Linked DNA regions of Homo sapiens: region 2 is linked to region 1. Evidence: fine-mapped expression QTL. A gene starts in region 1. The other region holds a variant in brackets. All regions are shown on one strand. Distances are between the middles of the regions. Region 1 holds the start of DCPH1 (damage control phosphatase 1). Region 2 overlaps CCDC170 (coiled-coil domain containing 170).

Region 1 (9,773 bases):
CAACAACCACGGTGAGTAGAACCATCTTGATTTTCCATCACTTTCATTTAAAAGACTCTGTTGATATTCTAGGTACTGATTCCATATATCAGTATCAACAAATTTCTCAACCAAGGGGATAAATGGTTTATCTGTTTGCAATTCATTCCGTAATTTAGAAAGGAGAGAGATAGCTTTCTTTTCAGCTTCCACGCCTTCCTGCAAAAATACAAGAAAAATAAATTGTGTGTGTGTGTGTGTCTGTGCAATTCCTCTAGGGTAACATATTTTTACAGACTTAAGAAGAAAAGAAAAATGTTCAAAACTACATTTTATTTCTTTAAACATTACATTTAGAACTCTTAAACTGAAAATCAAAAAACACACACAGATCTCATATGAACATAATCATGCCTTATCTACCTAAGTTCTGGCCTTTCTGTATCTTCGGTGGGATGACCATTACCACAGAGGGAAAGGAACCCCTGCCAGATTTTCCATGTCTTTCATGCTTCCATACATATTCTTCTTTCACCATTGACACCACTAGAAAAGAAACTGTGGGCTTTCTGAGGTTTCTTTTGGTAGCTCAAATTTTTTTTAACTTGTTTTCCACCAAGTTCTAGCTAGGTGAGAGATGACATATGCTGACAAACAAGGCACTACAATATTATCTCACATAACAGGCCAATTGGAGTGGGGACAAATGTAATGGGATCAGAATGAAGTGAAAATGACTTCACACCTTGGTTTTACATTAGCAAGATTCCTGCTCCATTAAAAAAAAAGAAAATGTAAGCCTAATAAGACACGTATATAATAAAATGTAGAGAATAAACATCAAGCCTGAGTATTTTTATAAGATCATTTTTATCATGTTGATATTTAGTCCCTACTTTCAGATCTGTAATTTTCTCAATATAAACATCTCTCCAATCTTTCTTTTGTTCCAAGTACAATTTATTTTGCTGCTAGAAAAAAAGATTGAAGCTTTCGAGATTCTGCAGGTTCAGAAATAGAAGAAAAGAAGTTGTAGCTGACTGTTTTGAGAGGAACTCCCCCTCCTCCAAATCTCTTCCCTAAAGTCTTAAACTTCAACTCTTTAACTATAAATTCCAACAACTGAGGTTTTACAGGGTGTCAGGCACCCTTTTACAGAAGCATATACCTAAAAAGGCTAATGGATTAATAGTGATGTCACTGCCACTTTGTTCACTTACTTGAATTGAATTCAAACATTTACTGAACCCTGTATGTGCCTGACACTAACCTCAGGGCCAGAGAAAGATGAATAAAGCCTGGTCCTGTCTCCAAGAGACACACATCTGCCAAACCAGGTAGTCTAAGGGCACGGACGTTTGACCGCTGAGGTGGGGGAAGATAGAAAACTGTGTGGCATGGCTCCTTCGGAGATAAGCCTGGCCCTGCTATAGGTGGGGGCTTAGGAAGCTAGAACACATGAGGCCCAAGGAGAGTGGCCATAGGTATAACAGAGGCATGAAAAAGGGACAGAAAGGCTACCAAAAGCAGACTTTATCTGTGTCAATTTACATCTTGTTCTGTGCTCAGTAGAGTGTGAAATGGGGGAGGGCTGGAGAGACAATAAACTCTGCCTTCAGTCACCTGGTGATTACGGGCATACAGGCCAAGTAGCAATATACTAGGACTTCATTAATTACTACATTTTAGATCACTCTGGCCGAAAAAACTGAAATTACAAAAGCATTATGGGGCCAGGCACAGTGGCTCACGCCTGTAATGCCAGCACTTTAGGATGCTGAACTGGGAGAATTGCTGGAATCTAGGAGTTTGAGGCTGCAGTGAGCTATGACTGCACCACTGCACTCTGCCTAGTAGACAGAACAAGACCCTGTCTCAAAAAACAACAACAAGAAAAACAAAAGTATTATGGTAATTTGCTTGCGTATATGACCAAATACTAAAGTGAACTATCCAAATTTGGCTAAATTATACTTGTGTGATAAAGATATGTCAGTTACCAAAATTATGTTTATGTGATAAACATTAAAACCATTCAGCAATATAATTGTCAGTGTCTAAATTAAGCCGGATTTTAGCAACAAGGAACAACAGGTAATCCCTGTGTTATGCCAGGATTAGTTTTAAACAAGACAATATAAAAGAAGTTGAAAGAAGTAGAACATTACACTCAAACTGCATGTGTGTTATCTTGCTCCATTTCAATTTGGCCAAGGAGAAAAGATCACCAACCATTTCTCTAAATTTTTGTTTTCAACTCTCAAAAAAAATGTACTGGTATATGTATGCTCTTTTACAGTCTATTGTGTAATAGAAAGATTACTGAACCTACAAGTTTAAAGACCTATGTCTAACATAACATGTGGGGAAAAGCAAGAGAGATCAGATTGTTACTGTGTCTGTGTAGAAAGAAGTAGACATAGGAGACTCCATTTTGTTCTGTACTAAGAAAAATTCTTCTGCCTTGAGATTCTGTTAATCTATAACCTTACCCCCAACCCCGTGCTCTCTGAAACATGTGCTGTGTCAACTCGGAGTTAAATGGATTAAGGGCGGTGCAAGATGTGCTTTGTTAAACAGATGCTTGAAGGCAGCATACTCCTTGAGAGTCATCACCACTCCCTAATCTCAAGTACCCAGGGGCACAAAAACTGCGGAAGGCCGGAAGGCCGCAGGGACCTCTGCCTAGGAAAGCCAGGTATTGTCCAAGGTTTCTCCCCATGTGATAGTCTGAAATATGGCCTCGTGGGAAGGGAAAGACCTGACCGTCCCCCAGCCCGACACCCGTAAAGGGTCTGTGCTGAGGAGGATTAGTGTAAGAGGAAGGCATGCCTCTTGCAGTTGAGACAAGAGGAAGGCATCTGTCTCCTGCCCGTCCCTGGGCAATGGAATGTCTCGGTATAAAACCCAATTGTATGTTCCATCTACTGAGATAGGGAAAAACCGCCTTAGGGCTGGAGGTGGGACATGCGGGCAGCAATACTGCTTTGTAAAGCATTGAGATGTTTATGTGTATGCATATCTAAAAGCACAGCACTTAATCCTTTACATTGTCTATGATGCAAAGACCTTTGTTCACGTGTTTGTCTGCTGACCCTCTCCCCACAATTGTCTTGTGACCCTGACACATCCCTCTCTCGGAGAAACACCCACGAATGATCAATAAATACTAAGGGAACTCAGAGGCTGGCGGGATCCTCCATATGCTGAACGCTGGTTCCCCAGGTCCCCTTATTTCTTTCTCTATACTTTGTCTCTGTGTCTTTTTCTTTTCCAAGTCTCTCGTTCCACCTTACGAGAAACACCCACAGGTGTGGAGGGGCAACCCACCCCTTCAATAACATAGTTATTTGGATTTTTCCTCATCCATTAATTGAATGGACAAAGTGATTTCTAAAGTCCTATTCTGCACTGAATGCTAATGAGTCCCAACTTGAATCAGTACAATGTGTCAATCAATTATAATTCATATCACTGAGCTTTGCATAGCAGCTTGAACTTCCAGGACTCAAGATCTCAAATTAGTAATATAAATACTGCAACTCAAATTAAACTTGAAATTTAAAAAGCTCTTCTAAGCAACTCAATTGCTTAGTCACTTGACTAAGTCAATTGCAAGTCTGTTGCCCAGTCACCAATTACAACATTGCATATATTAGAAAATACATTCTGAAGTCTAAATAACTGACAGAATTAATTATTGGAACACAATCATTTTCTAAATTGAAGATTGGCTGTTCTATCTTCATTTCAATGTATTACCTTAAAAACAAATAAATACTTGGCCCATCTATTGATTTTTACATTTAAAGGAAAATTGATACCTTCAAGAACTATTTATTATGTTTCTGTTGAGAAATTAACAAAAAATTAAAAGTTAAAACAATTCTTACCTCTCCGTGTTTCTCAAAAAATTCACTTTTATGTCGATGCAATGTATCAATAACCTTAGTTAAGATCTGTGGTATTCTGTCTTTAATTGTAAGATATGCAAATGATCTAGAAAAGAGTCACATGCAATATATAACTTAGCAGCATCAATACTAGAAGACTGGCTATCTTTTAGTTTCTGGAACACTTCATGTATATTAAACTCCTCATACAACTATTAAAAGATAGACAAGTATTGTATGATTACTATATTAAGACATAAGAAAACCTGGAAAATTCGCTGGTATGTCATGGAAGCCAAACTGTCTTGGTGCCTCTAATCCCAGATTCTCCCATGGAGTCTGTTTAATCATTCTTATCTTTCCTATTCTATTGCTTTTATTTTCCTAAATCAGAAACTCGCTTAGCAAAGTGATAGGATAGGGAATGGATTAGCTTAGAAATCAAACAGGCTCTTGTCCCAGGTCTACTATCTGCTAAGTCACCTGCTTAGAAAGATGAATGAAGCAATGCATCTAAAACCACCTAAAGGGTCTAATGTGCTTGAACAACATAAAGAATTAAAGGTACTTTTAAGCCTGTTTCTCTCCATTCTGTCTATTTTCTAAGTCAATTTTAATTATTTTCAAAAATTTTCCCCTTCTCTGCCTTCTCTATCTGCACAATGGACTCCTTCCATCCTATTCTGCCCCTAAGCAAATGAAGGCGTGCTACTGTCTCTTCCCACTCAAAAAATCAGAGATTTTATAGAAGTGTTCAAGAATGAAGCAAGCTGGAGATGAAGAAAAACTTATACCTGCATTAAAAAATTAAAGATATTCTTGATTTTATTCATACAAAACCCAAGATTTACAGATTATCATTTTATATCATTCTAAGGAAATACATGATACAGGTAGAAAAAAAGCTTTATTTGGTGGAGAAATTCTGTGCAGTTTTAAATATAGAGCACAGAGCTTAGCTGACTAGTGTTTTTATCTCCAGATCACAGGAGACAATTGTTAAATTACTAGATTGTAACTTGGGTATTTCTTCAAAAGGTTTCCTCAAATGATAGCTATAGAACTTTAAGAAAAAAACTGCACACACTTTCCGACTCTGTGGTGCTTTCAGTACCACCCAAAACAGTGATTAGGTTTTAATGCGCATAATAACTACGTTGATCAGAATTTAATTTTTAAAAATCATTAATAAAAGAAATCACTAATACCTCAGAGGGTGAGCAGGAACATTAAATCAACTGTCACTTGAATTTTCCCAGGCAGTAGGTATAGTAAGTCCTTTTTTGAGATTTTACTTTAATTGGAAAGTATTACTGTTTTCCTAACTACTACATTTCCTGCACCTCTGGAACAAAGTCTCTGGCCAGGACTGGAGTGAGGCCAGAAGCCCTAGGGCGCAAAATTGAAGGAGATACTCTCTATACTTGCATGACCTGAAACAGTGACTGCCTCAATTTGGGGCCATTGGCGCCACTTTGTTGGCCTCAACCTACTTTCTGCCCAGGTTTATTTTCTTCAAAGTGTTCTCGTCTTTTGCAATATTTTGAAGTAAGGACAAATTTCAAATATAAATTTGGCCATTCGATTTATGCAAATGGATGTTATTTGCACGGTCACCCACAACTTTACCCAAGAATCAGTAGCGTGACGACTATAAAGCAAAAAACTAGACAGTTCTTACTGTGAGATTACGATTTGATCAACAACAGGGAGAAACCCGTTTCTTAATAGCGCTGAGATCCCCAACTCTTACGCAGAATTTTAACGCCCCCAAAGCGCGTCTATTAAAGTGAATAAATAAAAAGTGACCGCCAGGAACAGACCGCGAAGCTGACCCCTGTCCTGATCCTTACGAGCAGCCGCCGCGGGCAGGCTCCCTCCCCGGGGCCGCCTCCCTTCGCCTCCGAGCCAGTCCGCGAAACCCGCAAAGGCGCCCCGGAAAGCCGCGCCCGGCGGCGGGACTCGAACGCAGCCCACCGGGGAGCGGGCGCCCTCCGCTTAGTCCCCACAGGCTCCCGGCGAGGCCCGGCTTTCCGCAAAAGTGGGGAGGAGAAAAGCTAGACTAACCCCACGTCCTGTCCTGAGAGAGACGCCGGGACGACAGCCATCACTTTCCGCGATCCCGGCCGCAAAGCTCGGCTGTTCAATCGCCGCAGAAACAGAGGCGGTACCGCCGCGAAGGAGGAGCTGAGAATGGGGGTGGTGTGGCTTTAAAAAAAAAGTGCTTTTGAATAAAGAAACTTTATTTGGTGCCCGATCAAACGGCAAACAGTGGCTCGCCAGAAGACCCAATCTTCCGGGGACGAAGGCGGGGCCAGCGGAGGGCGACTAGAGGAGCGGATATGGAAGCGAGCGAAAGCCGGAAGCAGGCAAGGGACCGGGAGGTCCCAGGGCCTAGGGAGCGGAAGAGGTCGCGGCGACGCGGCTCACGTGGTCAGACAGTCACGTGGCCCGAGTTTCTCCCGCTAAGTGGGACCAGAGTTCAGTGCGGCTGCGCAGTAGCGGGGGTGGGCGGGAGCGCCCTTCCAGGAGATGGGTTGGCTGCAGTAGTGAGAGGCTGGGGGTGCGGCTCTTTCCCTGCAGTCCTGCCGAGGAAGCGTGCGTCCCTGGCGCTTCCTTCTTCTCTTCCGGCGGAGAGGTTAGTGTATTGCCTTTTCTTTAGCAGCTCGAGTGGTCCGGCTTGGAGGTCTGCGCCCTGGCTCCTGGCCGCCCGGAACGTGTACAGTTACGGGTTACGCCAGTGCGGCTGTGACCCTTTGCCTCTTACCGTGATCTTTGGTCAGCTTAGCTGGGAGTAAAAAGCACTCAATTAATGAACCCTTTTTTTGAGCCAGTGCACCGCGGTAACTGTAGAAATCGATAAAATAATTTTGAGTTTGAGGAATTGAACGGCATACTCCCAAAGATGAGCGCCACTTAGCTCTCGAATCGTAGCCTAGCTGTAATCGATTTTCTTAATTGGTGTAATTGTTCTCTAAAAGTTGAAATGTGCCCGGGAACTGAGTAACTGCCTTGTATTTCATTTTAAAAATTCGATCGAATGCCTACTATGTGCTGGGCGCTATTGTCAGGAGATATAATAGGAAAAAACACAAATCCGTATCCTCAGGGAGCTTCCATTCTGGAAGGAAGACACAAAAATCTGCCCTTTCCTCTTATTTTTTTCCTTTAGCTTTGTGTCTCACGTATTTTACTGATTTACCTCGTTTTGTCTGTCACTCCCAATGCAAGGTTCAAAAGATTCAAAAGATAGGATTTTTGTCTATTTTATTTTCAGCTGTATTGTCAGCAACTAGGACAATACCTGGCACATGATAAGAACTGAGTTCGTTTGCAGTATGAATTAATAAACTAAAAATTAAAGGTGTGCAAGTGATGTTAAACAATGGAGAAATGCAAAGTGGAGGAAGATAAGAGAATGGATGCTGGTTGTGTTTTTTTTTTTTTTTTTTTTTATTGATCATTCTTGGGTGTTTCTCGCAGAGGGGGATTTGGCAGGGTCATAGGACAATAGTGGAGGGAAGGTCAGCAGATAAACAAGTGCACAAAGGTCTCTGGTTTTCCTAGGCAGAGGACCCTGCGGCCTTCCGCAGTGTTTGTGTCCCTGGGTACTTGAGATTAGGGAGTGGTGATGACTCTTAACCAGCACGCTGCCTTCAAGCATCTGTTTAACAAAGCACATCTTGCACCGCCCTTAATCCATTCAACTCTGAGTGGACACAGCACATGTTTCAGAGAGCACAGGGTTGGGGGTAAGGTCACCGATTAGCAGGATCCCAAGGCAGAAGAATTTTTCTTAGTATGGAACAAAATGAAAAGTCTCCCATGTCTACTTCTTTCTACACAGACACGGCAACCATCCGATTTCTCAATCTTTTCCCCCCCTTTCCCCCCTTTCTATTACACAAAACCGCCATTGTCATCCCGTCCCGTTCTCAATGAGCTGTTGAGTACACCTCCCAGACGGGGTGGTGGCCGGGCAGAGGGGCTCCTCACATCCCAGTAGGGGCGGCCGGGCAGAGGCGCCCCTCACCTCCCGGACGGGGCGGCTGGCCGGGCGGGGGGCTGACCCCCCCACCTCCCTCCCGGACGGGGCGGCTGGCCGGGCGGGGGGCTGACCCCCCACCTCCCTCCCGGACGGGGCGGCTGGCCGGGCGGGGGGCTGACACCCCACCTTCCTCCCGGACGGGGGCTGGCCCCCCCACCTCCCTCCCAGACGGGGTGGCTGGCCGGGCGGGGGGCTGACCCCCACCTCCCTCCCGGATGGGGTGGCTGGCCTGGCGGGGGCTGACCCCCACCTCCCTCCCGGATGGGGTGGCTGCCGGGCGGAGGGTCTCCTCACTTCTCAGATGGGGCGGCCGGGCAGAGGCGCTCCTCACATCCCAGACGGGGCGGCGGGGCAGAGGTGCTCCCCACATCTCAGACGATGGGCGGCCGGGCAGAGACTCCCCTCACTTCCTAGATGGGATGGCGGCCGGGAAGAGGTGCTCCTCACTTCCTAGATGGGATGGCGGCCGGGCAGAGACGCTCCTCACTTTCCAGACTGGGCAGCCAGGCAGAGGGGCTCCTCACGTCCCAGACGATGGGGGGCCAGGCAGAGGCTGCAATCTCGGCACTTTGGGAGGCCAAGGCAGGCGGCTGGGAGGTGGAGGTTGTAGCGAGCCTCGATCACGCCACTGCACTCCAGCCTGTGCACCATTGAGCACTGAGTGAACCAGACTCCGTCTGCAAACCCGGCACCTCGGGAGGCCGAGGCTGGCAGATCACTCGCGGTTAGGAGCTGCAGACCAGCCCGGCCAACACAGCGAAACCCCGTCTCCACCAAAAAAGTACGAAAACCAGTCAGGCGTGGCGGCATGCGCCTGTAATCGCAGGCACTCGGCAGGCTGAGGCAGGAGAATCAGGCAGGGAGGTTGCAGTGAGCCGAGATGGCAGCAGTACAGTCCAGCTTCGGCTCGGCATCAGAGGGAGACCGTGGGGAGAGGGGGACCGTGGGGAGAGGGAGAGGAGGGAGAGGGAGAGGGCTGGTTGTGTGTTTTTAATGTAGTGGTTGGGGAAGGCTTCACTGGGTAGAAGACATTTTAGCAAACATCTGAAGGAGGTGAGGGTGTGAGCCTTTCAGATCCCTGGGAGAAGAGCGTAAGGAACAGCAAGTGCACAGATCCAGAGACCAGAATGAGGAGCAAAATAAGCAAAGGAGAGTGCTGTCAAAGTGGTGATAAAGGACAGATAATGTAGTGCCATGCAGGCCATTCTGAGGGGTTTAGCTTTTTTTTTTTTTTTTCGTTACAGAATCTCACTCTGTCGCCCAGACTTTAGTGCAGTGGCGCGATCTCGGCTCACTGCAACCTCCACCTCCCGGGTTCAGGCGATTCTCCTGCCTTGGCCTCCCGAGTAACTGGGATTACAGGCACCCGCCGCCACGCTCAGCTAATTTTTTTGTATTTTTAGTAGAGACGAGGTTTCACCATGTTGGCCAGGCTGGCCTCGAACATCTGACCTTGTGAATCACCCGCCTCGGCCTCCCAAAATGCTGGGGTTACAGGCGTGAGCCACCGCGCCAGGCTTTTTTTTTTTTTTTTTTTTTTTTTTTGAGACAGAGTCTCGCTTTGTTGCTCATTCTGGAGTGCAGTGGCGCAATCTCCGCCTCCCAGATTCAAGCCATTCTCGTGCCTCAGCCTCCCAAGTAACTGGGATTATAGGCCCATGCCACCATGCCCGGCTGATTTTTGTATTTTTAGTAGACACGGGGTTTCGCCGTGTTGGCCAGGCTGGTCTGGAACTCCTGACCCCAAGTGATCCCTCCCAAAGTGCTGAGATTACAGGCGTGAGCCGCCATGCCTGGTTGGAGGGCTTTGGCTTTTATTAAGTGAACCGTGAAGCCACAGCTAGATTTCGCGT
Region 2 (9,773 bases), 60 kb before region 1:
ATACCCCTTGTTTATCACATAATCAAGAAATAACTATAAAAATAGCCAGCCAGCAGCCCTCGAGGCTGCTCTGCCTATGGAGTAGGCACCCTTTTATTCCTTTACTTTATTAATAAACTTGCTTTCACTTTACTCTGTGAACTCACCCAAATTCTTTCTTGAACAAGATCCAAGAACCCTCTCTTGGGGGTCTGGATTGGGACTCCTTCCTGGTAACAAATGTATGCTTTTTTTACTAACATCTTAGTCCTCACATTTGATTGACTTGACAGTCTCGTCCCATTCTCATCTGCTAAACCAAATCCCCTCAGCCCCTGGAGCTGCCTGATTTCTCCAAGATCCCACCCCCTGGAGATGGGCTGGCTTAGAAAGTGCACAGATTTTCCCACACTAAGAAAGATAGCTTGCAACACTCCATCTCAGCCTGGTCCACCCAGAAGCATTAACAAACTAAAAAACATGGATGTATACCATAACTACAAGTCAAAAGGAGAAAGGTTGCCTTCTTCTGGACTCTGTGGCTGTTCTGGGACATGCTTCTCCTGTACCATGGCAGGACCATAAACTGAAGGCAAGGCCCCACCTTGCTAGTGTTTCGTATAATCTTTACTGTTTGCAAAAGGCCTGGATTTTTGAGAATTCCTTTAATTTCCATCCAAAGCTTAAGGGCTATTTCTTATCCAGTGTGAAAACAAGAAAGAATGAAAAAAAAAAAAGAAGCAAATGGCCGTAAAGAAAAATTAAAGGAGGGAAAAAATAAGAGGAAGCACAGGAGTATTATATATGTGCTGTGAGTATTGTACACTTCCTAGAGGTAGACCACAGCTTGACTTGGCCCTTCCAAGTCGACAGACATGAGTCACATTGATACAGGAGTTAAGAAGAAATTATTAGTGGCCGGGCACGGTGGCTCACGCCTGTAATCCCAGCACTTTGGGAGGCCGAGGTGGGTGGATCACGAGGTCAGGAGTTCGAGACCAGCCTGACCAACATGGTGAAACCCCGTCTCTACTAAAAATACAAAAAGAAAAAAAAAATTAGCCAGGCATGGTGTTGGGCACCAGTAATCTCAGCTACTCAGGAGACTGAGGCAGGAGAATTGCTTGAACCCAGGAGGCAGAGGCTGCAGTGAGCCGAGATTGTGCCACTGCACGCAGCCTGGGTGACAGTGCAGGACTCCATCTCAAAAAAAAAAAAAAAAAGAAGAAGAAGAAATCATTAGTAAGGGTATGGGAGTCCTCAGTAAGGTTTTCTTTTAAATGAAAAGCAGCCCCAAAATAATTTTCTTTTGTTTTTTGTTTACTGAGACACAGTCTCACTCTTGTTGCCCAGGATGGAGTGCAATGGGGTGATCTTGGCTCACTGCAACCTCCACCTCCCAGATTCAAGCAATTCTCCTGCCTCAGCCTCCCGAGTAGATGGGATTATAGGCATGTGCCACCACACTTGGCTAATTTTGTATTTTTAGTAGAGACAGTTTCTCCATGTTGGTCAGGCTGGTCTCCAACTCCTGACCTCAGGTATCCATCCACCTAGGCCTCCCAAAGTGCTAGGATTATAGGCGTGAGCCACTGTGCCCGGCCCCAAAATCATTTTCTTTCCTAACAAAGAGCAGCTTGTAAAATCAAGCTGCAGGCATAGACAAGTAAGCTGGAAGCTTGCATGGGTGGAAGTTGGCAGTTGTGCCAAAAGGAAAAGGCTTCCTGGGACTAGGCATGTTCATCTTCTCTCTTTTTGCCAAAGCATGTGCACAGTAAGGAAAAGACAATATGGCACCAGCCAGGCAAAGACTCCATTTGCATAATAAGATTAGGGTGGGACCACCAGCCTTCCCCACGCACTAGGTAAACATCGCACCTGGTTGAACCAATCTCTGGGCCCTACGTAAATCAGACACTGTCTCCTCAAGCCTGCCTGTAAAATCTGGTACAGTCTAGAGCTGACCAGTTTTTCCCTTTCAGGAACTCCTCTCTCTTTCAAGGGAGAGAGCTGTTCTTCTTTCTCTTTCTTTTGCCTATCAAACCTCTGCTCCTAAACTCACTCCTCATGTGTGTCTGTGTCCTTAATCTTCTTGGTGCGAGATGACAAACCCTGGGTATTTACCCTAGACAACAACACCGCTTCAACATGATTTACTAGGACCTCATGGTAAAGCAAAGAACCTGCTCAGTTACAACACACCCATTCATGACAAGAAATCATGACAAATTTCAAAACCCACAAAACAATCTATCAACTAAAAATAACATTCTAAGCCTTCCAACTGACTGAATGGAGACCTCCTCTTGGCCAAGGGCATTCCAAAGTAAACCTGAAACTAGTTCAAGCCTTGATGGAAAATGGAGGCCCAACATACTTCATTATACCCTTCTCCCTTTGGAATTCAGACACAACTGACCAGCATTAACATTAAAACAGAGATCTTAAGACTGAGAGAACAGACTCCTGTAGCAATAAGATACCAAATTCCAACCTGACTCTAGTATAGCATTATATGACAGATAACAGCCCTGAAAGAAATCGAAGTATTTTACCTCAAAATATATTTGTCTTTTCTTTTTTTTTTTTTTCTGAGACAGAATCTTGCTCTGTCACCAGGCTGGAGTGCAGTGGCGCGATCTCAGCTCACTGCAACCTCTGCCTCCAGGGTTCAAGTGATTCTCCTGCCTCAGCCTCCCGAGTAGCTGGGACTACAGGCATGTGCCACCACACCCAGCTAATTTTTGTATTTTTAGTAGAGACAGGGTTTCACCATGTTGGCCAGGATGGTCTTGATCTCTTGACCTCGTGATCCACCCGCTTCGGACTTCCAAAGAGTTGAGATTATAGGCATGAGCCACTGCGCCACACTTTCTTTGTCATATTTTTAAGTGGTCCTGCAAAGCTGTCTCTTGTGAAGGAAATGTATATTCTGTAAAGAATCTCTCTCCTTTATTAGGTCTTTTCAGGAGAGTCTACCACCTTTTATTGGTCTGATAAGAAGACATTTACCATCTATTGTCTCTGAAGCCTGCTACCTGGAGGCATCATCTATATAACAAGAACCTGGGCTTCCCACCTGCACAGTGGCTCACGCCTACAATCCTAGCACTTTGGGAGGCCAAGGCAGGCAGATCACCTGAGGTCAGGAGTTCCAGACCAGACTGGCCAATATGGTGAGACCCTGTCTCTACTAAAAATACAAAAATTAGCCAGGTGTGGTGATGTGCACCTGTAGTCCCAGTTACTTGGGAGGCTGAGGCAGGAGAATCGCTTGAACCTGGGAGGCAGAGGTTGCAGTGAGCCAAGATCACACCATTGCACTTCAGTCTGGGTGACAGAGTGAGACTCCGTCTCAATAAATAAGTAAATAAATTGATGGAGACTTGTCTCAGATACTTTTTGATTTACAAATCTAATGGCGTAATGCCAATGCCTAAAACAGGGTCCAAACAATGTAGTCCAAGTAGACATCTCTCCCAGGCTCTTGCATTTCAAGGATAATTTTGAAGTAGAGCATAGAATGAATGAAATGCATATTCTTCAGCCAATCCTTTATAATAGCATTTGACTACATTTGTTTAGTTAATATAAGAAACACAATTTCCAAGACCTCTTGTTCAGGTATTAAGAGTGCATTCCTCATCACCTTGATCCAGTTTCTTGCAGAGACCAGGTGAGTGAGTGTGAAGGCCTCATTTATCTGACACCAACCTACCAAGCTTTCAAAAGTCACATAGCCTAAGCTGATGTAATAATGTGAAGGCATTTCAATATTAGGATGGAAATGAATGGTTCTGCCAAGGCTTCATCCAAAAAGAATGGAGACTGAAGCAAGAGGCTCCTCACTGCTCTCCCTTCCGACTCACTTTGTGCCGACCTAACCTTTGTGCTGCCACAAAGTAGCCACTCTGAAATGCAGACCTGATCCATCTTTCCCCACCTACAAAGCTGCCCACGATAGACAAGGTAAGGAATAAACTCCTTAAGGTATGTGAGTCTCTTCTCTATCAGCCAAAACCCACATTCCCAGGGTTTCTGCCTCAATGCCCAATATCTAGCCTGACCTCCAGTCACATGGAAAAAATTAAATGTGTCTCGGCATGCCACAGAGCTTTCATCGCTGTTTCACCTTCTGGGTTCTTCCTCTTTCTTCACAAGCTGCTTCTCCACTGGGCAAAAGTCTGGGCCCCATTCAAGAGTTGGAACTGGCATTTTTGTGAAGGCTTCCTAGGATCCCCAGGCAAAATTTCCCTCCCTTCCTTCCTTCCTTCCTTCCTTCCTCCCTCCCTCCCTCCCTCCCTCCCTCCCTCCCTCCCTCCTTCCTTCCTTTCTTTCATTTTCTTTCGTTTCTTTCTTTCCAGGATTTCACTCTGTCATCCAGGCTGGAGTGCAGTGGCATGATCACGGCTCACTGCAGACTTGACCTCCCAGTCTCAAGTTATCGTCTTATCTCAACCTCCCAGGTAGCTGGGACTACAAGCACGTGCCACCACGCCCAGCTAATTTTTGTAATTTTTTAGAGATGGAGTTTCACCATGTTGTCCAGGCTGGTCAAAATTTCTTTTTATCCCAGTTACCACTCCTGCCCACATGCTCATCTTGCTTTATTTATCTTGGTTAATATTTCTGTGATTGTCTAATCGATGAAAAAAATGAATGCCACCCACAGTCTTATCAGAGATAACTCTATTGTATTTTGATGCATTTCTTTTTTCTTTTTTTTTTTTTTTTTTTTGAGACAGGGTCTCATTCTGTCATCCAGACTGGAGTGCAGTGGCATGATCTTGGCTCATCACAACCTCCACCTCCCAGGCTCAAGCGATTCTCCTGCCTCAGCCTCCGGAGTAGGTGGGATTACAGGCGAATGCCACTACTGCCTAGCTAATTTTTGTATTTTTAGTAGAGACGGGGTTTTCATCATCTTGGCCAGGCTGGTCTAGAACCCCTGACCTCAAATGATTCACCCACCTCAGCCTCCCAAAGTGCTGGGATTACAGGCATGAGCCATGGTGCCTGGCTTTTTTTTTTTTTTTTTTTTTTTGAGACGGAGCCTCTCTCACTCTATCATCCAGGCTGGAGTGCAGTGGTGGGATCTCGGCTTACTGCAACCTCTGCCTCCCAGGCTGAAGCAATTATCTTGCCTCACCCTCCCCAGTAGCTGTAACTACAGGTGTGCACCACCATGCCCAGCTAATTTTTGTATTTTCAGTAAAGACAGGGTTTCACCATGTTGGCCAGGCTGTTCTTGAACTCCTGACCTCAAGTGATCTGCCCGCCTTGGCATCCCAAAGTGCTGGGATTACAGGCGTGAGCCACCATCCCTGTCTGATGCATTTCTTTATAGTGTTTTTCTAATACAAATATATCATGTGCTTTTTAAAAATATAATTGGGGTTATACTGTAACTACAACTTTACAACCTGTTTTCTACATTTAATATTAATATTTCCCCAAGTGTTCTTTTAAAATGTTAACAGCTGCACAATATTCCATCATAAAGCTGTATTTTAAGTTGACTACTCTCCCG[C/T]GATTCGACATTTCGTTCTCTTTCTAATTGATCACTATTATAAATCTGTTAGAATTCTGACTGTTTCCTTAGGATGAGGAAAGTTGTTTCTCTGGAAAAGAAACAACTGAGTCAAAGGAAATAAAAATTGTTTTGATACACATTGCATAGAAAATAGCACCAACTTACACTCCCACCAATTATGTACCATAGGTTCATGACTTTAAGGGTCACTGCTTAATCAGTTCCTTCTCAATATTTCTATATGCCCTTTAAGAGGTGTCTGTATTATAATATTTATCACACGAAGAATAATCATAGTAGTAACATTAGTCATCCTTTTTTTAAGGACTTGGTATATACAGACGCAACATAAACACTTTACTAACATTATTGCACTCAACCCTTACAACAGTTCTTAGAAAGGAGGAGGAACTCGGTTAAACACTTTACTAACATTATTGCACTCAACCCTTACAACAGTTCTTAGAAAGGAGGAGGAACTCGGGCTTACCCAAGGACCCACAGGCAACGAGTAAAGCAGAACCTGGATTCAAACCCACAAGTCTCTGATCCTAACACCCATGCTTTTACCCTGGGGTTTGTAAATGTTTTTGTCTGCAAGCTCTTGGTATGAGTTTATGAAACAAATTTAAATATGTGTTTATTTTAAAATGATATACTACTGGGTCCGGGTGCAGTGGCTTATGCCTGTAATCCCAGCAGTTTGGAAGGCCAAGGCCCGTGGATCACTAGAGGTCAGGAGTTCGAGACCAGGCTGGCCAACATGGTGAAACCTCCTCTCTACTAAAAATACAAAAATTAGCCAGGTGTGGTGGTACACATCTATAGTCCCAGATACTCGGGAGGCTGAGGCAGGAGAATGGCTTGAACCCAGGAGACAGAGGCTGCAGTGGGCCTAGATTATGCCACTGCACTCCAGCCTGGGCAACAGAGCGAGACTCCATCTCAAAAAAAAAAAAAAACAAAAAAAAACGGTATACTGCTGGGTGCAGTGGCTTACCCCTGTAATCCCAGCACATTGGGAGGTTGAGATAAGAGGATTGCTTATGCTCAGGAGTCTGAGACTAGCCTGGGCAACATGGTGAGACCCCTGTCTCTACAAAAATTAAAAAATTAGCCAGGCATGGTAGTGTCCCTATGGTCCCAGCTACTCAGGAGGCTGAGGTGGGAGATGGCTCAAGCCCAGGAAATCGAGGCTGCAAAGAGCTCTGATCGTGCCACCGCAGTCCAGTCTGGGTGGCAGAGACTGAGACCCTGTCTCAAAAATAAAAAAGATATACATATACTACTGTACATATTATGCACGGTACCAAACATATACAAAAATGTAAATTAAGATTAAGATAAACAAAAATTCAAATCTTATCTTCTTGGACCTCTCAAAAACATCTTGTGTTTTATGTCTACCTACTAGAATGTAAGCTCCGTGAGAGCAGGCCCTCTGTTTTCCAGTACTGTGTCTGCAACAGTGCCTGGCAGATAGTATGCACTCATGAAATATATGTTGGGCATTAATAAATGAACGAGTCAGCTACAAGGTTGTGTGTTTGAAGGCAGAAGCTAGAAATCAATTATATTTTTATCCTTAGCACCAAGCACATTTCCTAGCACATAATGAACACCCCATAAATATCTGGTGAATGAATATACATTTAATGTTTGTTGAATAAATTAATGGATGGATAAATGAATGAGCACATGGATGGGAAGATAAATAGACAAACAGAAAGGCTTCTTCCCTCTGGTCACTTTACAGGGTTAGCACGTCAAAGATAAAAATACCTGGCTGAACTTAATTATAACACTTTACTAGTGTTATACTCTAGGGGGCAAACAATAGCCCCCTAGAACAAGTATAGATGGAATTTCACTACGTCTTGTAAAACCAGGAAATAATAAACCCCCTATTTTAAAAATTAGCCCTCGCTAGACAAAAACTTAGAAGCAAAGTTAGTGAGTTTTAGAAGAACTGGAAAGCGTAGTAGACAGTCGACCAAGATACACTGGAGAGGCAAAGCCATGAATTGTTCATCCACATCTTATTAGGTAAGGACAAAACTATAAAACATCTATAAAATACTTACCTTGAGGCTGGGTGCAGTGGCTCACACCTGAAATCCCAGCACTTTGGGAGGCCGAAGCAGGTGGATCACCTGAGGTCTGGAGTTCGAGACCAGCCTGGCCAACATAGTGAAACCCCATCTCTACTAAAAATACAAAAATTAACCAGGCATGGTGGCAGGCACCTGTAATCCCAGCTACTCAGGAGGCTGAGGCAGGAGAATTGCTTAAACCCAGGAGGTGGAGGTTGCAGTGAGCTGAGATTGTGCCACTGCACTCCAGCCTGGGTGACAAAGCGAGACTCTATAAAAAAAAAAGAAGAAGAAAAAAAACTTACTTATAAAATTATAAACCTTAATATTTGTTAGGGTGAAAGTCCCTTTCTATCTAATTTACGATTTTTCTGTATCTTGTTATGAGTGTCCTGACTAATAAGTTTGCAATTATTTCCTTAACTCATTCTATCTTTAAAAGCTCCTCATCACCTCCTTTGCAATATCGAATCTTAATCTCAAGGGTTTTTTTTGCATGGCAGACGTACATTATGGGAAATTATATTAACACACCCTCTCTGACTTCAGTATCTTTATTCTGTAACCTCACTGATATATGACATTTAAATTCACTTGTTAATCAGAAAACATTAAAATGCTTTGTTTTGCCTTTTTCTTCAGTTTTTACTGTAATAAATAACTCATTTCTAGAATTAGCATAAGTGTGAAATTTTTCTCGGAAGCTCTTTTTCTACCACAGAGATAGAAGAATGGCTTCTGGTTCATCACTGTAGCCCCAGTGACTGAGTATCAGTAAATATTTGAGGAATGAATGAACAAAATGACACAGTAAGAATTCAAACCAAGACTTTCTGACGCCAAAGCCCATGCTCTTACTCAGAATGTTTTTTTGTTGTTGTTGTTTGTTTATTTGTTTTATGGGCTTGTTTGTTTTTGAGACGGAGTCTCTTTCTGTTGCCTAGGCTGTGGTGCAATCTTTTCTCACCGCAACCTCCACCTCCCAGGTTCAAGCGATTCTCATACCTCAGCCTCCTGAGTAGCTGGGATTACAGGCGCGCACCACCATGCCTGGCTAATTTTTGTATTTTTAGTGGAGACGGAGTTTCACTATGTTGGCCAGGCTGGTCTGGAACTCCTGACCTTGTGATCCAGCTGTCTTGGCCTCCCAAAGTGCTGGGATTACAGGCGTGAGCCACCACGCCTGGCCTCTTACTCACAATGTTATTGTCCCATATATGCCTGGCTAAAAGTTGAAATGATCACCTTTCCCTAAATTGAATGATTTTCTGATGCTTGATATTGCTGTCTCCAAGACTATTGTAACAATCACTTGCATTTCCATAAGTAATGTTAAGCTCAAATAATTGATTTAATTTTAATTAATTCATAAATCTCTTTCTAACCACTTTTTGGAAAATGGATTCTTCCACGTTCATAACTGTACACATTCATAAATGTACAGATTGGATCTTGTTGATTTGGGAGCTTATAATTTAGTTTAATATAAAGTTCTATGAAGCTTAAAAATATCTGTTCAAGTTAGTAAGATAATTTCTTAGGCTGGACTCAAAAAATTAATTAACTTCAGGTCCTATTTTAAGCAACTAGCAGTTTTTTAGCATTTGTACAGGATCTACCTCCATGGGAGGTATTGGGTATAGCTGTCAAGAATAATGAATGCAAATTTGGGAACAATGTCACATATGGAATAGCCACTGAGAAAGGAATGGTGGAATGAGAAGTCCCTGTTGACAACGAGATGAGACACTTTATTCATCATTATCATTCATAGATAGATAGATAGATAGATAGATAGATAGATAGATACATAGATAGATAGATGAGACAGAGAGAGCGAAAGGGGGGAGAGAGAGAGAGAGAAAGAGATCTTTCCACATGTTAAAGATTTTAGAACTCTTCCCAAATGGGATTTTTTTCACTTCACTTATTATTAGACACTTGATAAATTTTAGTTTAAAATGAAAATTTTTCTAAGATGTAATATTTATTTTTGTATTTTTTTTTTTTTTTTTTGAGAAGGAGTTTCGCTCTTGTTGCCCAGGCTGGAGTGCAATGGCATGATCTCGCCCCACCACAACCTCCGCCTCCTGGGTTCAAGTGATTCTCTTGCCTCAGCCCTCCAAGTAGCTGGGATTACAGGCGTTCGCCACCACGCCCGGCTAATT

Evidence for each region.
Region 2: its variant is fine-mapped to the expression of DCPH1 in whole blood (TOPMed, PIP above 0.99).

What each region holds. Positions count from the first base shown.
Region 1 is chr6:151,448,753-151,458,525 of GRCh38, reverse strand. DCPH1 (damage control phosphatase 1) reads right to left here and starts at 6,060. Exons shown (of 5, transcript NM_024573.3): 1 at 5,940-6,060; 2 at 3,873-3,978; 3 at 1-198. The coding sequence starts at 5,980. It overlaps RMND1 (required for meiotic nuclear division 1 homolog), which reads left to right and starts at 6,400. Exons shown (of 12, transcript NM_017909.4): 1 at 6,400-6,510. RefSeq lists silencers at 2,438-2,732, 5,703-5,822 and enhancers at 2,367-3,124, 5,983-6,432, 6,623-6,672.
Region 2 is chr6:151,508,864-151,518,636 of GRCh38, reverse strand. All of the region lies in intron 1 of CCDC170 (coiled-coil domain containing 170), which reads right to left. Among named protein-coding and RNA genes, the nearest start is that of CCDC170, 20 kb to the right of the region's middle. The variant C/T (reference allele first, on the strand shown) is at 5,510.